Linked DNA regions of Homo sapiens: all the other regions are linked to region 3. The links come from fine-mapping of genetic effects on gene expression. A gene starts in region 3. Each other region holds a variant in brackets. All regions are shown on one strand. Distances are from middle to middle.

What was found.
Region 1: its variant is fine-mapped to the expression of PHLDB3 in whole blood (TOPMed, PIP 0.96).
Region 2: its variant is fine-mapped to the expression of PHLDB3 in prefrontal cortex (GTEx, PIP 0.97).

Annotation. Positions count from the first base shown.
Region 1 is chr19:43,447,218-43,452,438 of GRCh38, reverse strand. No RefSeq gene overlaps it. Among named protein-coding and RNA genes, the nearest start is that of LYPD3, 16 kb to the left of the region's middle. The variant A/G (reference allele first, on the strand shown) is at 2,205.
Region 2 is chr19:43,455,185-43,460,405 of GRCh38, reverse strand. No RefSeq gene overlaps it. Among named protein-coding and RNA genes, the nearest start is that of LYPD3, 7.8 kb to the left of the region's middle. The variant CA/A (reference allele first, on the strand shown) is at 2,472.
Region 3 is chr19:43,501,959-43,507,179 of GRCh38, reverse strand. It overlaps PHLDB3 (pleckstrin homology like domain family B member 3), which reads left to right and starts at 2,434. Exons shown (of 16, transcript NM_198850.4): 1 at 2,434-2,591; 2 at 3,048-3,274; 3 at 4,897-5,079. The coding sequence starts at 3,062. It overlaps ETHE1 (ETHE1 persulfide dioxygenase), which reads left to right. Exons shown (of 7, transcript NM_014297.5): 7 at 278-461. The coding sequence ends at 330. RefSeq lists silencers at 2,238-2,297, 2,898-3,147 and an enhancer at 2,776-3,298.

The sequences.
Region 1 (5,221 bases), 55 kb after region 3:
CTCCATCAGGTATCTTTCCTGACCACCAGTCTGGGTCACATGCCTCATTTGGGGCTTCCCCCATTATTGTTTTGATCACTTGGGATTGTTGCTATCTGGATGTATTGGTCTGGTCTCACATTGCTATAAAGATTCTACCTGAGGCTGGGTAATTGATAAAGAAAAGAGGTTTTTATTTTTTTAATTTATTATTTTTTTTGAGACACAGTCTTGCTCTGTTGCCCAGGCTGGAGTGCAGTGGCACAATCTCGGCTCATTGAAACCTCCGCCTCCCGGATTCAAGTGATTCTCCTGCCTCAGCCTCCTGAGTAGCTGGGATTACAGGCGTGTGCCACCATGCCCAGCTAATTTCTGTATTTTTTAGTAGAGACAGGGTTTCACCATGTTGGTCAGGCTGATCTTGAACTCCTGACCTCATGATCTGCCTGGCTCGGCCTCCCAAAATGCTGGGATTACAGACATGAGCCATCATGCCTGGCCTTTATTTATTATTATTTTTTTTAATATAAGGTCTTACTCTGTTGTCCAGGCTAGAGTGCAGTAGAGAGAAGTTGGCTCAGTGTAACCTCCACCTCCCGGGTTCAAGCAATTCTCCTGCCTCAGCCTCCCAAGTAGCTGAGGTTACAGGTGTCCGCCACCATACCTGGCTAATTTTTGCATTTTCAGGAGAGATGGGGTTTCACCATGTTGGCCAGGATGGTCTTGAACTCCTGACCTCAGATGATCTGCCTGCTTTGGCCTCCCAAAGTGCTGGGAGTACAGGTTTGAGCCACTGCGCCTGGACTGAAAAGAGGTTTAATTGACTCACAATTCTGCATGGCTGAGGAGGACTCAGGAAACTTACAATTATGGCAGAAGGTCAATGGGAAGTAAGGCATGTCTTACATGGCGGCAGCAGAGAAAGAGAGAGAGAGACAGAGAGAGAGAGAGAGAGAGCAAAGGAAATTGCCACTTTTTTTTTTTTTTTTTTTTTTTTTTGAGACAGAGTCTCGCTCTGTCGCCCAGGCTGGAGTGCAGTGGCGGGATCTCGGCTCACTGCAAGCTCCGCCTCCCGGATTCACGCCATTCTCCTGCCTCAGCCTCCCAAGTAGCTGGGACTACAGGCGCCCGCCACTACGCCCGGCTAATTTTTTGTATTTTTAGTAGAGACGGGGTTTCACCGTTTTAGCCGGGATGGTCTCGATCTCCTGACCTCGTGATCCGCCCGCCTCGGCCTCCCAAAGTGCTGGGATTACAGGCGTGAGCCACCGCGCCCGGCCGGAAATTGCCACTTTTAAACCAACAGATCTCGTGAAACCTCCCTCATCAGCACAAAAACAGCATGTGAGAAACCGTCCCCATGATCCAATCACCTCCCACCAGGTCATTCCCTCACACATGGGGATTACAATTTGAGATGAGATTTGGGTGGGGACATGGAGCCAAACCATAACACTGGAAGATGTGTCTGTCTCTGCCCCTGGACTTTGAGTCTCCTGAGGGAAGGGCTGGGGCTATGTTGTCAGTGCCACACACACATCTCAGGGCTGGGCACAGAGGAGGGTTTCAATTATAGTTTGTCGAATGAATAGTGCATGACTTCAGATGTTAGGCAGATCTGTTCATCACAGGATTTCTGAGAAGCAAGGGTGCTGTCTCTTTCTCTTCTCTGCACTTTTTTCCTGACAGGCTTTCTGGAGAACTGAGACTTGAGAGCTGGCACAGTTTGTTCCTGGAGGCCAGCTCTATGCTGCAGGGAAGCGGTTGTGGTTTCTGTGGAAAGTCCCAGAGCAATTCATTTCTTCTTGGTTCCTCCAACCAATCAATCCAATCCAAATTCCTTTGCTGACTCAACACTTTCCCAAATTTTTATTTTTACTTTTGCACAGATGTTTAAAATGAATTATTTAAAACATAGAGAAGTTAAAATAATCTTACAGTGAACACTCATATATACCCATCACCTAGATTCTATTTGTATGATTATTATTATTATTTTTGAGACAGAGTCTCACTTTGTCACCCAGGCTGGAGTGCAGTGGTGTGATCTGGGCTCACTGCAACCTTCACCTCCCAGGTTCAAGCGATTCTCCTGCCTCAGCCTCCTGAGTAGCTGGGATTACAGGTGCCCACCACCACGCCTGGCTAATTTTTGTATTTTTAGTAGAGATGGGGTTTCACCATGTTGGGCAGGCTGGTCTTGAACTCCTGGCCTCAAGTGATTC[A/G]TCCGCCTTGGCCTCCCAAAATGCTGGGATTACAGGGGTGAGCCACCGTGCCCAGCTCTATTTTTATTTTATCTTTGGACACAGGGTCTCACTCCCATAGCCCAGCCTGGAGTGTAGTGGTGCAATCTTGGCTCACTTCAGCCTCGACTTCTGTGGCTCAGGTGATCCTCCCACCTCAGCCTCCTGAGTAGTTGGGACTAGGGGCATGTGCCACCACGCCTGGCTAATTTTTTTTTTGTAGAGATAGATAGGATTTCGCCCTGTTGCCCAGGCTGGTCTCGAACTCCTGTACTCAAGCCATCTGCCTGCCTTGGCCTCCCAAAGTGCTGGGATTACAGGCATGAGCCACCGTGCCTGGCCCCATCACCTAGATTCTAAATTAATTAACATCTTACTCAACTTGCTTTATCAAGTATTTACCCACCTTTCCATCCATCTATCCATCACTCCTTCTTGCCTTTTCAATGCATTTCAAAGTAAGTTGAAAAGCATATTTATTTAGTTTCTCCTCTTCAGGTAAAATTTACATATGCTGAAATGCACAAAACTTAAGCACATTGTTAGAGGAATTCTGACAAATGTGCAGGCCCGTGCCGCCAAAATCCTTATCTTGAATCAGAACATCACCATCACTCCAGAAGGTTGTCTCCCATCCCTTCCCAGTCAGTCCCTGGGTTTCAGAGAGGAATGTAGTGGGTGGGGTGGGAAGAGGAGGCAGAGGTTAGGCCTAAACCTTGAAGGGCCTCATAGGCCACAATAAGAAATACAATAACAATACAAATAGAACACTATGCTGGATGTTTTTCTTTTTTCTTTTCTTCCCTTTTTTTTTTGAGACAGGGTCTCACTCTGTTGCCCAGGCTGTAGTGCAGTGGTACAATCATAGCTCACTGCAGCCTCAAACTCCTAGGCTCAAGCCATCCTCCCTCCTCAGCCTTGGAAATAACTGGAATTACAGGTGCATGCCACCATGCCAGGCTAATTAAAAAAAAATTTTTTTTTTGTAGAGATGAGTCTCATTATGTTGTCCAGGCTGGTCTCGAACTCTTGGCCTCAAGTGATCTTCACACCTCAGCTTCCCAAAGTGCTGGAATTACAGGTGTGAGCTGCTGTGCCCGGACTATGCTGGATATTTTTTGTTTGCCTCTTCAGGTCCACTCTCCACCTCTCCCCGCCATACTCCTGGGAGTCTGACCATACCTTGGGATCAGCATGAACCACAATGAGCTTTCTGAACCTCTAGCTTTCTGCATCGGTTTGCCCAATGGGGAGACACTGGCAAGAAACTGGAGGGTGGGTATTTATTTCCCCAACTCCCTTCTTGATGTACGGTTGCCTTGGGCTGCCTGTATCTTTCTACCCACTGCCTCCACCCTTGTAAATAGACTCCTTTTTTTTTTTTTTTTTTTTTTTTTTTTTAGACAACAGTCTCTCTCTATCACCCAGGCTGGAGTGCTGTCAGTGGCGCCATCTCGGCTCACTGCAACCTCCGCCTCCTGGGTTCAAGTAATTCTCCTACTTCAGCCTCCTGAGTAGCTGGGATTACAGGCGGGCGTCACCACGCCTGGCTAATTATTGTATTGTTAGTAGAGATGGGGTTTCACAATGTCGGCCAAGCTAGTCTCAAACTCTTCACTCAGATGATCCGCCAGCTTTGGCCTCCCAAAATGCTGGGATTACAGGCGTGAGCCAGTGTGCTCAGCCCGATACTTACTTTTAATTACATGTAGATTAAGGCGCGGTTTATGCAGAAATTTCTAGGGAAGGGGTAATGACTTTTGGCTTGTGGGGTTATTGGCATGGAAAGGGGCAGTAACTCCCAGGTGTTGCCATGGCAACGGTAAACTGACGTGGCATACTGGTGGGCGTGTATTATGGGAAACTGCTTAGCTAGTCCTCAATTTGGTCCCATACCCAAGTCCCACCTCTGGAGGTGAGTCCAGCCTCCCACCTCAAAAACAGTGGCATTGGCCAGGCGCGGTGGCTCACGCCTGTAATCCCAGCACTTTGGGAGGCCAAGGCAGGCAGATCTCTTGAAGTCAGGAGTTTGAGACCAGCCTGGCCAACATGGTGAAAACCCATCTCTACTAAAAATACAAAAAAAATTAGTCAGGCCTGGTGGCGGGCCTGACTAATCCCAGCTACTCAAGAGGCTGAGGCAGGAGAATCGCTTGAACCCAGGAGGCGGAGGTTGCAGTGAGCCGAGACCATGCCGCTGCACTCCTGCCTGGGCAACAGAGTGATACTCTGTCTCGAACTCCCCCCACAACAAAAAAACAAAACAAAAAAGCCCCCCAAGCCCCAGAAAAACAAACAAAAAACAGTGGCATCTTGGTGGGGCGCGGTGGCTCATGCCTGTAATCCCAGCACTATGCGAGGCTGAGATGGGAGGATCACTTGAGCCCATGAGTCTGCCCAGCTTGGGCAATATAGCGAGACCCCATCTCTGCTAAAATACAAAAATTAGCTGAGTGGTACGCACCTGTGGTCTCAGCTACTAGGGAGTTTGAGTGCTCACCTAGCAAGCTAAAGTGCAGTAAGATAATCCAGAATGCAAGTACCACTCTAGTGACAACCATCATCACTAGTGTCATCAAGGGCACTTCATATAAAAGTGCCAGTGTGCATCAGGGATAAGAGTGAGACAACATCCACTGGTTCACGGTGAACCGATGAAACAAGAACAACAATTAGGAATTTATTAGGATCAACAGGACTATCCTAAATATCAGCAGTAAATTAGCACATCACAAGAAACTCATGAACATGGGTTAACAAAATGAACCACTGATAAGCCAACTTTTCTGTGTCAAAAGGTGGGAGGTTCACTTGAGCCCAGGATGACGAGGCTGCAGAGAGCCGAGATTGCGCCACCGCACTCCAGCCTGGGTGACAGAGCAAGACCCTGCCTCAAAACAAACAAACAAAACAAGAACAGTGGCACCTTAACTGTTAATTATACGAGAAACTGGGAGCTCCTGTAGGGTTTTCACCCTGCAAGTCAGATTGGTGTTTTC
Region 2 (5,221 bases), 47 kb after region 3:
CACTGCAACCTCTAACTCCTGCCTCAGGCTCCCAAGTAGCTGGGACTACAGGCTTATCCCATCATACTTGGCTAATTTTATTTTTTGTAGAGATGAGGTCTTGCTATGATGCCCAGTCCTCCTGCCTTGGACTCCCAAAGTGTTGGGATTACAGGCAGGAGCCACTGCACCCGGCTTCATCTGGTTTACTAAGAGTCATTAAGCCTGGGTGCAGTGGCTCATGCCTGTAATGCCAGCACTTTGGGAGGCAGAGGCAGCTGGATCACCTGAGGTCTGGAGTCCGAGACCAGCCTGACCAACATGGAGAAACCCTGTCTCTACTAAAAATACAAAATTAGCTGGGCATGGTGGCACATGCCTGTAATCCCAGCTACTCGGGAGGCTGAGGCGGGAGAATCGCTTGAACCCAAGAGGTGGAGGTTGCGGTGAGCCGAGATCACGCCACTGCACTCCAGCGTGGGCAAAGAGTGAAACTCCGTCTCAAAAAAAAAAGTCATTAACTGGGCTTACCTACTGTGTCCCACTTGTCTGTAGGACCCGGGGGTGCTGCTGTTGGTCTTTGCTTGATGTTGGGGACCTGGGGCTTGAGCCCCACCTCCATCTCCTTCCAATCAGATGAAGGCCTGGCCCTAGAGGCACTGGAGGGGAAAAGCCTGGTTTGGGAATGAGAGAGTTCCTGGTAGGCTTTGCGACTGCTTGATGGGAGGAGGATCAGATGTGGGGAATAGTGAGATCATAACAGTATATTGCCAATATTGCTATTGATAGCCAATATTACTATTGATAATGGGGAGTAGTGTGAGGTAACAACAAAACAATAGCAAATAAGGAGAATAGCAACAAAATAGAACATCAATAAGAGTATGAGCTCTTATTCTGAAACACATATATTGCAATACATGTATAGAGGGAAACATCAGTGATGGTAAATGTAGTGTTGGGAGTATTAATGATTTTTCTTTTTTTTTTTTTTTGAAATGGAGTTTTGCTCTTGTTACCCAGGCTGGAGTGCAATGGCACAATCTCAGCTCGCCACAACCTCCCCTCCCAGGTTCAAGCGATTCTCCTGCCTCAGCCTCCCGAGTAGCTGGGATTACAGGCATGTGCCACCATGCTTGGCTAATTTTATATTTTTAGTAGAGATGGGGTTTCTCCATGTTGGTCAGGCTGGTCTCAAACTCCTGACCTCAGGTGATCCACCCACCTTGGCCTCCCAAAGTGCTGGGATTACAGGCGTGAGTCACCATGCCCGGCAGAGATTTTTAAATTTTAATTTAACTTTTATTTGTATTGTAGAGATTGGCGTCTCACTATGTTACCCAGGCTGGTCTCGAACTCCTGGGCTCAGATGATCCTCCTGCCTCTGTCTCTCAAGTGCTGGGATTACAGATGTGAGGCACCGTGCCCAGCTGTGTTAGTGATTAAAGACAGTCTTACTAGATGCCAAGTCTATGCTATCAGTTTACAGCCATCATCTCATTGACTTTTCCACATATTTTCAGATGGGATGATTGGGGAAACTGAGGCTCAGAATGATGAAGTAATTACCCACAGCAAATAATACATTGATTATGTGCCAGGTACTGTATTAAGTGCTGTACTTGGATTAATATATTTAATCTACAAAACCATCCTATGAAGTAAGTGTTAATCACCTGCATTTTACAAGATGGGGAAATCAGGGCTAGAGAGGTTAAGAAACTTGCCCCACGTCACTCAGCTATTAAGCAGTGGAGCTCGGATTTGAACACGGGCAGGTCAGCTTTACAGAGTGTACCAACACTGCCATAATGTTTCCCTCAGCTTGACTAAACTTTAGACAGGCTTCCTCCTGCCTCTAGGCCCTCAGAATCCAGAGGGTCTAACCACAGAGGCCCCTTACCTCCCTTTTCTTAGAGCATTTACTTGAGAAAACTTGTCATTGTAAATTATTTCTTTGTCCATTTGAGATGGATATAAACCTCTTTAAAAGTCTTGGCCGGGCGCGGTGGCTCACGCCCGTAATCCCAGTACTTTGGGAGGCCAAGGCGGGTGGATCACGAGGTCAGGAGTTCAAGACCAGCCTGACCAACATGTTGAAACCCCGTCTCTACTAAAAATACAGAAATTAGCCAGGTGTGGTGGCAAGTGCCTGTAATCCCAGCTACTCAGGAGGCTGAGGCATGAGAATCGCTTCAACCTGGGAGGCGGAGGTTGCAGCGAGCCAAGATCACGCCATTGCACTTCAGCCTGGGGGCGACAAAATGACACTCTGTCACAAAAAAAAAAAGAAAAAAAAAGTATCTTGCCAGTTGATAGCCCAGGAAATGGAGTCTCACTATGTTGCCCAGGCTGATCTTGAACTGGGGTCAAGCTATCTTCCTGCCTTGGCTTCTCAAAATGCTGGGATTACAGGGATGAGTGACCAGGACCCAGGAAACTATCTTTTTGAAATTGTAAACATAAAAGGAAATAGCACTCCTATCTCCCCC[CA/A]GGAAGGTGAGAGCCTAACTTTGGTACATGACTCAGCTCTCAGTTGTAAAATACCTCCTGTCATGAAGACAGAAGAAAGTTGCCTTCTCTTCTGGGTAAAGCCGATTAAAAATGCAAATGACCTACAATCGCCATTCACCCCAGCTCAAAATCCCTACCACTCAGCTGGGCGTGGTGGCTCATGCTTGTAATCCCAGCATTTTGGGAGGCTGAGGCAGGCGGATCCCTTGAGTCCAGGAATTTAAGACCATCCTGGGCAACCTCGTCTCTAAGAAAAATACATTAAAAATTAGCCAGGTGTGGTGGCACGTGCCTGTAGTCCCAGCTACTTGGGGATGCTGAGGTGGGAGGATCGCTTGAACCCTGGAGGCCGAGGTTGCAGTGAACCATGATGGTGCCACTGCACTCCAGCCTGGGTGACAAAGCAAGACACTGTCTCAAAAAAAAGAAATCTGGCTTCCAATGCTTTTTTTTGTTGTTGTTTGAGATGGAGTCTCACTCTGTTGCCCAGGCTGGAGTGCAGTGGCGTGATCTTGGCTCACTGCAACTTCTGCCTCCCAGGTTCAAGCAATTCTCCTGCCTCAGCCTCTCGAGTAGCTGGGACTACAGGTGCACACCACCACGCCCGGCTAATTTTTGTATTTTTAGTAGAGATGGGAATTCGCTATGTTGGCCAGGCTGGCAATATATTTACTTAGCGGATCCATCCCCCTGAAAGTAACCAATCTTTTGCAGCTGTCACTGTCCAGCCTTCCCATCTTCTTGGGAGGATGACCTCCTTATCCATCTTGGCCTCTGAAACCCATTATGGGCCCTGAGACTCCCGCTCCCCCACCGCAACCCCTCCAACCTCCTTCCAGACAGTTACTTGCTTGTGTTCAGGAGGAGAAGAGAAAAGAAGAGCTTAATGTGTTTCAAATATAATCAATTGTTTTGCTCATCTAGTTTCTACTTTTAAGCTCCTAGCTCTGCTTTCTGTTAAAAATACCAGATTCTGGCCAGGTGTGGTGGCTCATACCCATAATCGCAACATTTTGTGAGGCCGAGGCGGGTGGATCTCTTGAAGTCAGGAGTTTGAGACCAGTCTGGCCAATATGGCGAAACCCCATCTCTACTAAAAATGCAACAAAATCGGCTGGGCATGGTGGCTCACGCCTGTAATCACAGCACTTTGGGAAGTCGAGGCGGGCGGATCACCTTAGGTGAGGAGTTCGAGACCAGTCTGGCCAATATGGCGAAACCCCATCTCTACTAAAAATGCAACAAAATCGGCTGGGCATGGTGGCTCACGCCTGTAATCCCAGCACTTTGGGAGGTCGAGGCGGGCGGATCACCTTAGGTCAGGAGTTCAAGACCAGTCTGGCCAATATGGTAAAACCCTGTCTCTACTAAAAATACAAAAATTAGCTGGACGTGGTGGCGGACTCCTGTAGTCCCAGCTACTCAGGAGGCTGAGGCAGAAGAATCGTTTGAACCTGGGAGGCGGAGCTTGCAGTGAGCCAAGATTGTGCCATTGCACTCCAACTTGGGTGACAGAGTGAGACTCTGTCTCAAAAAAAAAAAAAAAAAATCAGCCAGGCTTGGTGGTGCGCGCCTACAATCCCAGCTACTTGGGAGGCTGAGGCAGGAGAATCACTTGAACCCGGAAGGCGGAGGCTGCAGTGAGCTGTGATTGTACCACTGCACTCCAGCCTGGGCGACAGAGTGAGACTCTGTCTCTCTCTCTTTCTCTCTCTCTCACACACAGACACACACACACACACACACACACACACACACACACACAGCCAGATTCTGTATAACTTATTAGACTGGACACGGCTTTAAAGTGTTTTTAATGACAGCTCACCAAAACAGAAGTGAGAGAAAGAAGAAAAAGGACGAGGAGAAAGAAAGGGAAGAGAGAGTGAGAGGGTTTAGCCGTACGAAAAGCCACAGAGGGGGAAAGTTACAAAATCTCTTTCCTGTATTTTTTCCAAGGTTTGATGTCTGAGGTCCATGTGTGAGAAATTGATTTCAGCCTCTTTTTCAGGGCTTGCTGGGGACAAGGCAGGTGTGACAAGGGGCAGGGTGGATCTGCCTGAACTGGCCTTGCTGGTTTCTCTTCTTCCTGGGTTTGTGTGTTTTTAACGAAGGGCTTGTTTAATTTTAATTACATAAGCAAGACATGACTATCTTCTTGCTGTCAAACATTAAAAAAATACAGAGACAGCAAGAGAGAGAGAGAGAGAGAGTGCTCAAAAAGCCCTTTTGAGAAATGGTTGGTCAATCAGTTGCAGGGGAGGGAAATTGGGGTGCAATTTGGAAACGTCTTTCTAAATGACAAATGCAGATCGCTTCTGACTTGGCAGGTTTTTCTCTCAGGAATTTATCTCACATGTAGACATGGACGCCTGAGGCTGATGTCAGGTCTGCTCCAGGATGTTAATTGCAGTAGTGTTTGGAATAACAAAACATTAGGAATAACCTAAATGTTTATCAGGAGGGAACTGGTTATGCTTATGATGGTGTGCTCACACAGTTTGATGCTTTATGGGCATTATAAAAATAAAATGAGCTAGGTGCAGTGGTTCACGCTTGTAATCCCAGCACTTTGGGAGGCCGAGGCGGGTGGATCACCTGAGGTCAGGAGTTCAAGACCATCCTGGCCAACATGGCGAAACCCCCTCTCTACTAAAAATACAAAAAGTAGCTGGGCGTGGTGGTGGGTGCCTGTAATCCCAGCTACTTGGGAGGCAAGGCAGGAGAA
Region 3 (5,221 bases):
AAGGAAGGGCTGGGGGACTGGACTCCTGGGTCTGAGGGAGGAGGGGCTGGGGGTCTGGGCTCCTGGGTCTGAGGGAAGAGGGGCTGGGGGTCTGGACTCCTGGGTCTGAGGGAGGAGGGGCTGGGGTACTGGACTCCTGGGTCTGAGGGAAGGAGTGGGCTCAGGACCAAAACTCTAGTTTCCTGAAGAGGAAAGGTTCCTAGGATTTCTGGGTCTCCAGTGGGGCCTGGAACTCTACCTAGGCCCCTTAGTTTTAACCTTGATTTCTTCCTTTCAGACTTTGCTGTTCCAGCCAACATGCGCTGTGGGGTGCAGACACCCACTGCCTGATCTCACTTCTGTCAGATGCTCCCATCCACTATTAATGCACTAGGTGGGAGGAGAGGGCGGCAATGACACTGCACCTCTCCTTTCCCACCGCATTCCCTGGAGCTCCCTAAATAAAACTTTTTTTAACGTGAGTCTGACTTCTACCTATTTTCTGGGGGAACCAATTGGGTTTCTGGGCCGAAAGGGGTGGGGTTCTGGTCCTATGGAGAGGCCAGGGAGCCTGCAAGATTTGTTTTCTTTTTCTTTTCTTTTTTTTTTTGAGATGGAGTCTCCCTCCATTGCCCAGGCTGGAGTGCAGTGGCACGATCTCGGCTCACTGCAACCTCTGCCTCCCGGGTTCAAGCGATTCTCCTGCATCAGCTTCCCAAGTAGCTGGGACTACAGGCGCGTGCCACCATGCCCGGCTAATTTTTTCATATTTTTAGTAGAGACAGGGTTTGACCATGTTAGCCAATATGATCTTGATCTCCTGACCTCGTGATCCACCAGCCTCGGCCTCCCAAAGTGCTGGGATTACAGGTGTGAGCCACCGCGCCCAGCCCGGGAGCCCACAAGATTTCTAACTCACAAGATCAAAAACAAACACAGCTATCTGGGGCAGGTCTTCTCATCACCTTGGATTAGAACACCGGCTTGCTTTTGAGCCACTTCCCACTTAGCCCTGGGGTAAGTTACTTCACTTCTCTAGGCCTCAGTTTTCTTATCTCTAAAATGGAAGGAATAATAATGGGGTGTTGTGATGCTCTGATGAGTCAATGTGTGTGAGTGCCTGGCACATGGCCTATCAGTGTTCACCATTAAAGTTACTATCATTTAGAATGATCTTTTGGGTACTTCCTGGCTTGTAGTGACAGTATACGCAATGGTTAAGAACATGGACTTTTGAGAGAATGAAGCCTGCATTTTACCACTTACAACATGTGTAGATGTTGGCTACATTTTTTTTTTTTTTTCTGAGATGGGGTCTTACTCTGTCGCCCAGGCTGGAGTGCAGTGGCACATTCAAGACTCACTGCAGCCTCGACCTCCTGGGCTCGAGATATCCTCCTGCCTCAGCCTCTGGAGTAGCTGAGATGACAGGTGTGTGCCACCACGCCTGGCATAATTTTTGTATTTTTAGTAGAGATGGGGTTTCTCCATGTTGCCCAGGCTGGCCTTGAACTCCTGATCTCAAGCAATCCACCTGCCTCGGCTTCCCAAAGTGCTGGGATTACAGGCCTGAGCCTCTGTGCCCAGCCAACCTTGGGTGCATTTGTCCTCCTCAGCTTGTATCCCCAAGTGTAAAATGGAGATAGTAGGCCAGGAGCGGTGGCTCACGCCTGTAATCTCAACACTTTGGGAGGCTGAGGCAGGCAGGTTGTTTGAGCCCAGGAGTTCAAGATCAGCCTGGGCAACCTGGAGAAACCCAGTCTCTACTAAAAAAAAAGAAATGGAGGTAGTAATCACTTTCTCGCTGGACAGCTTTGAGGGTGAAATTAAATGACTGGGTATAAAGTGTTTCACACAGCTCTTGACTTCTAATCATCCCTTTTCATATACCAGTTATTTTCCTGTTTTCATTTTCCTGTTTTCGCCCAGAGAGGAAAGGGTCTGGCTGAGACCTTTAACCTCTGCCCTCCACCCCATAGCAAAGTTGTGGGGGGGTGGCGGTACACTTCCCTCAGTCTCTGGGCAGGTGTCTGACTCAGTTCAGGGCACCCCTTCCCCTTGTCCAGCTCCCCAAACCGGTCAGGGCCCTTCTGAAGGGCTCATTAGAGGGGAGACGTCCCCATCTCCATTCCTGCCTTCCTTTCTGAACTCCCAAGGTCTGGACATTAGAGAGGCTCCCATACAGAGGTGGCCAAGACTCCTCCAGGGGGGCAGGAATGAGGGGCTCGAGGGAGACTGGGAGGTCGCGATGCTGAGTTCCACGAGGGTGGGGCCGGGCCGGGGCCGGTGGGGCCGGGATGGCCGGATGCCGAGGCCACGGGTGGGGCAAGCCCGTGGCTCCCTCCTCCCTCGGGAGCTGTTGGACCTGTTGTCCCCCCTCCACTTCCGGGCTGCTGGGGAGGGGGACCGGGCGGCCTCTCTCCTCCCTCTTCCCCTGCCACCTGTCTCATAGGCAGAAGCGGCCGTGCCCAGCGCGCAGAGCGGAGCGCGCCGAAGCCTGAGCTCGTGAGGGGGCCGAGGCTGTGGGGAGGTGGCAGTTGGACTTCGGAATCTCAAGGACTCCGACTCCTGGCTTGTTCAGAGAAGGAGAGCCCCGACTCCTGGATCCCTGGGTGAGGCGGCGTGGGCACGGTTGCCCTGCACAGTGGGGTCGGGACTAAGACTACGGGGCTCCGGGAAGGATGGGGCGGGAGCCGAACTGCTGAGTCTCGGAGGGAGAAGATGGGTCGCTCTAAGCGAATCCAAGAGATTGTAGGGGGCTGCTGGGAGGGTACAAGGCCTGACACCTAGAGATGAGGGAGGGGAGGCGGGGTCGAAGAGGTCAGTAGGGGGCGTGCTACGACCCGGACTCAAATTCCGGTCCCGTCTCCGGTGGCGTGTCGCCTTGGAGCCATCAAGCCCCGCCTCTGGAAACTTCAGGACACGCCTCCGTAACGCTCAGTTCCATCCTTTGAACTCTTAGGCCCCGCCTCCTTGGGGGGGGGTCTCCGCGCCCCGGAGCAGACGCGAGCGGCGCTCAGCCGTCCTAGGCCCCGCCCCCGGAGCTTCTGGTCCCGCCCACCCCGCAGGAGTCCCAGCGGCCATGGGGACGCGAAGCAGCCCCGAGGAGGGGACCCCGCCGCCGCTGGTCCCGGAATGCGACGTGGAGGTCCAGCCCCAGGGCCATCCCGAGGAGTCCCGGGAACAGGAGGCATCCGAAGTCCTGGCGGAACCTTCGAGCCGCGGGGGAGCTGAGCAGCAGGCAGAGGAAGAAGAAGTGGGAGAAGGCAGCAGCACTGAGAGCAGCCGCGACGCGGTGAGGGGCCCGAGGGCGACAGCGCGGGGGGCTTGGACCGACGGGGACCCAAACAGGTGGCCAGACAGGTAGACAGGTAGAGGGAAACCAGAAAGACAGAGACCCGGAGACAGGGAGAGAGACCGAGTGATAGCAGAGACTACTGAGAGAGAGATACACCAGGACACGGAGCCAGAGAGGCAGAGGCACAGACAGACAGAAACCAGATACAGAGACAGAAACCAGATAGAGCCACGGGGAGGCCCCAAGAACGGAGATAGACCCAAACGGGCGACAGAGACAGAGAGACTAGTATAGAGGAACCAGATAGGTGGCTCACGCCTGTAATCCCAGCACTTGGGGAGGCCGAGGGGAGGATTGCTTAAGCCCAGGAGTTCGAGACAAGTCTGGGCAACATAGCAAATCCCTGTCTCTAGAGAAAAAAAAAATACAAAAATTGTCCAAGCGCAGTGCCGCGTGCCTGTAATCCCAGCTACTCGGGAGGCTGAGGCAGGAGGATCGCTTGAGCCCAGGAGTTGTAGGCTGCGGTGAACTATGACTGCGCCACTGCACCCCAGCCTGGGACAAAGCAGAACCTATCTCTAAAAATGAGAGAGAGAGAGAGAGAGAGAGAGAGAGAGAGAGACCAGATAGACAGACAGGAGAGACTACAGAACAGAGAGAACCAAACGAGTAAGAGATGCAGAGAGATCAAGAAGCCAGACAGAGACCCAGAGACATGGAGACTGAGAGACAAAGACCCCAAAAAGACAGAGACACAGTGAGACTAGAGTCAGAGAGAGGGGAATCGAGACAGAGGGAAACCCAGAAATAAATGGCAGAGATGCTCAGAGAAACAAATAGACAAAAACCTCGAGAGAGGGACATACTCCGAGGAAGAAAGATCTAGTGATTCTAGTGGACAGATCTAGTGGACAGATACCGAATCTGAGAGACTGGGGTCAGGTGGAGAGACAGAGACAGATCCAGGCACTACAAGAAAGTGACGCCAAGAGAATAGGACCTGATAGAGAAAAAGAAACACCTTTCATAAGTCGGCTTTACACCTGCTCACCCTCCATACGGTACTGCAAGCCTCTGTGGTCCGTGTGGTTGGGTGGTCACGGGACTTGCACCCTCCCCCACTCCGACCTTAAATACAGGGGTCTGAGGCCGGGCGCGGTGGCTTATGCCTGTAATCGTAGCACTTTGGGAGGCCGAGGTGGGAGAATCCCTTGAGCCTAGGAGTTTGAGACCAGCCTGGGCAACATAGCATCGCCCCCTCTCTGCCAAAAAAAAAAAAAAAAAAAAAGAGCTTGGCGTGGCGGTGCGCGCCTGTAGTCACAGCTACCTAGGAGGATGAGGCAGAAGAATCGCTTGAGCGAGGGAGGTCGATGCTGCAGTGAGCCGTAATCGCGCCACTGCACTCCAGCCAGTGAGACCCTATCTCAGGACAAAAAAAAAAAAAAGATAAGAAAGAAAAAGAAAAGAGCCTGCGACAGATTATGGGAGTGGTGGTTGTGTTAGGTAAGTGGACTGATGGACTGAGACCCGCAGAGGGTGATGTTGGGTGGGGACCAGACCTACTTAGTGATTGCAGGGGGCGAGGCATCTCCACTTAACCACGCCCCCCTCAACTTCAGCCCGAGGCTACGCCTCCGATAGCTATGGCGGCCACACCTCCCGCATCCACCTCTTCGCGGGAAGGGGTGCGAGGGGCGGCGCGGCGCCTGCAAGGACAGCAGCTGGAGGCATTGACTCGTGTGGCCCTGATGGAGCAGCGAGTGAAGGAGCTACAGCGCCAGAGGAAGGAGCTGAGGATCGAGGTGAGGCTGCGGACCCCTTGGGAAGCCTGGCCCCAACTCAAGCGGAACCCGCAAAGCCGGACTCCCAGCTTTTTCCTCGGGTGGGATCAGATTTTAGGCCCTCCGCTCTTCCTCCCTCCAAATTCAGGTCCCTGGAGTCCAT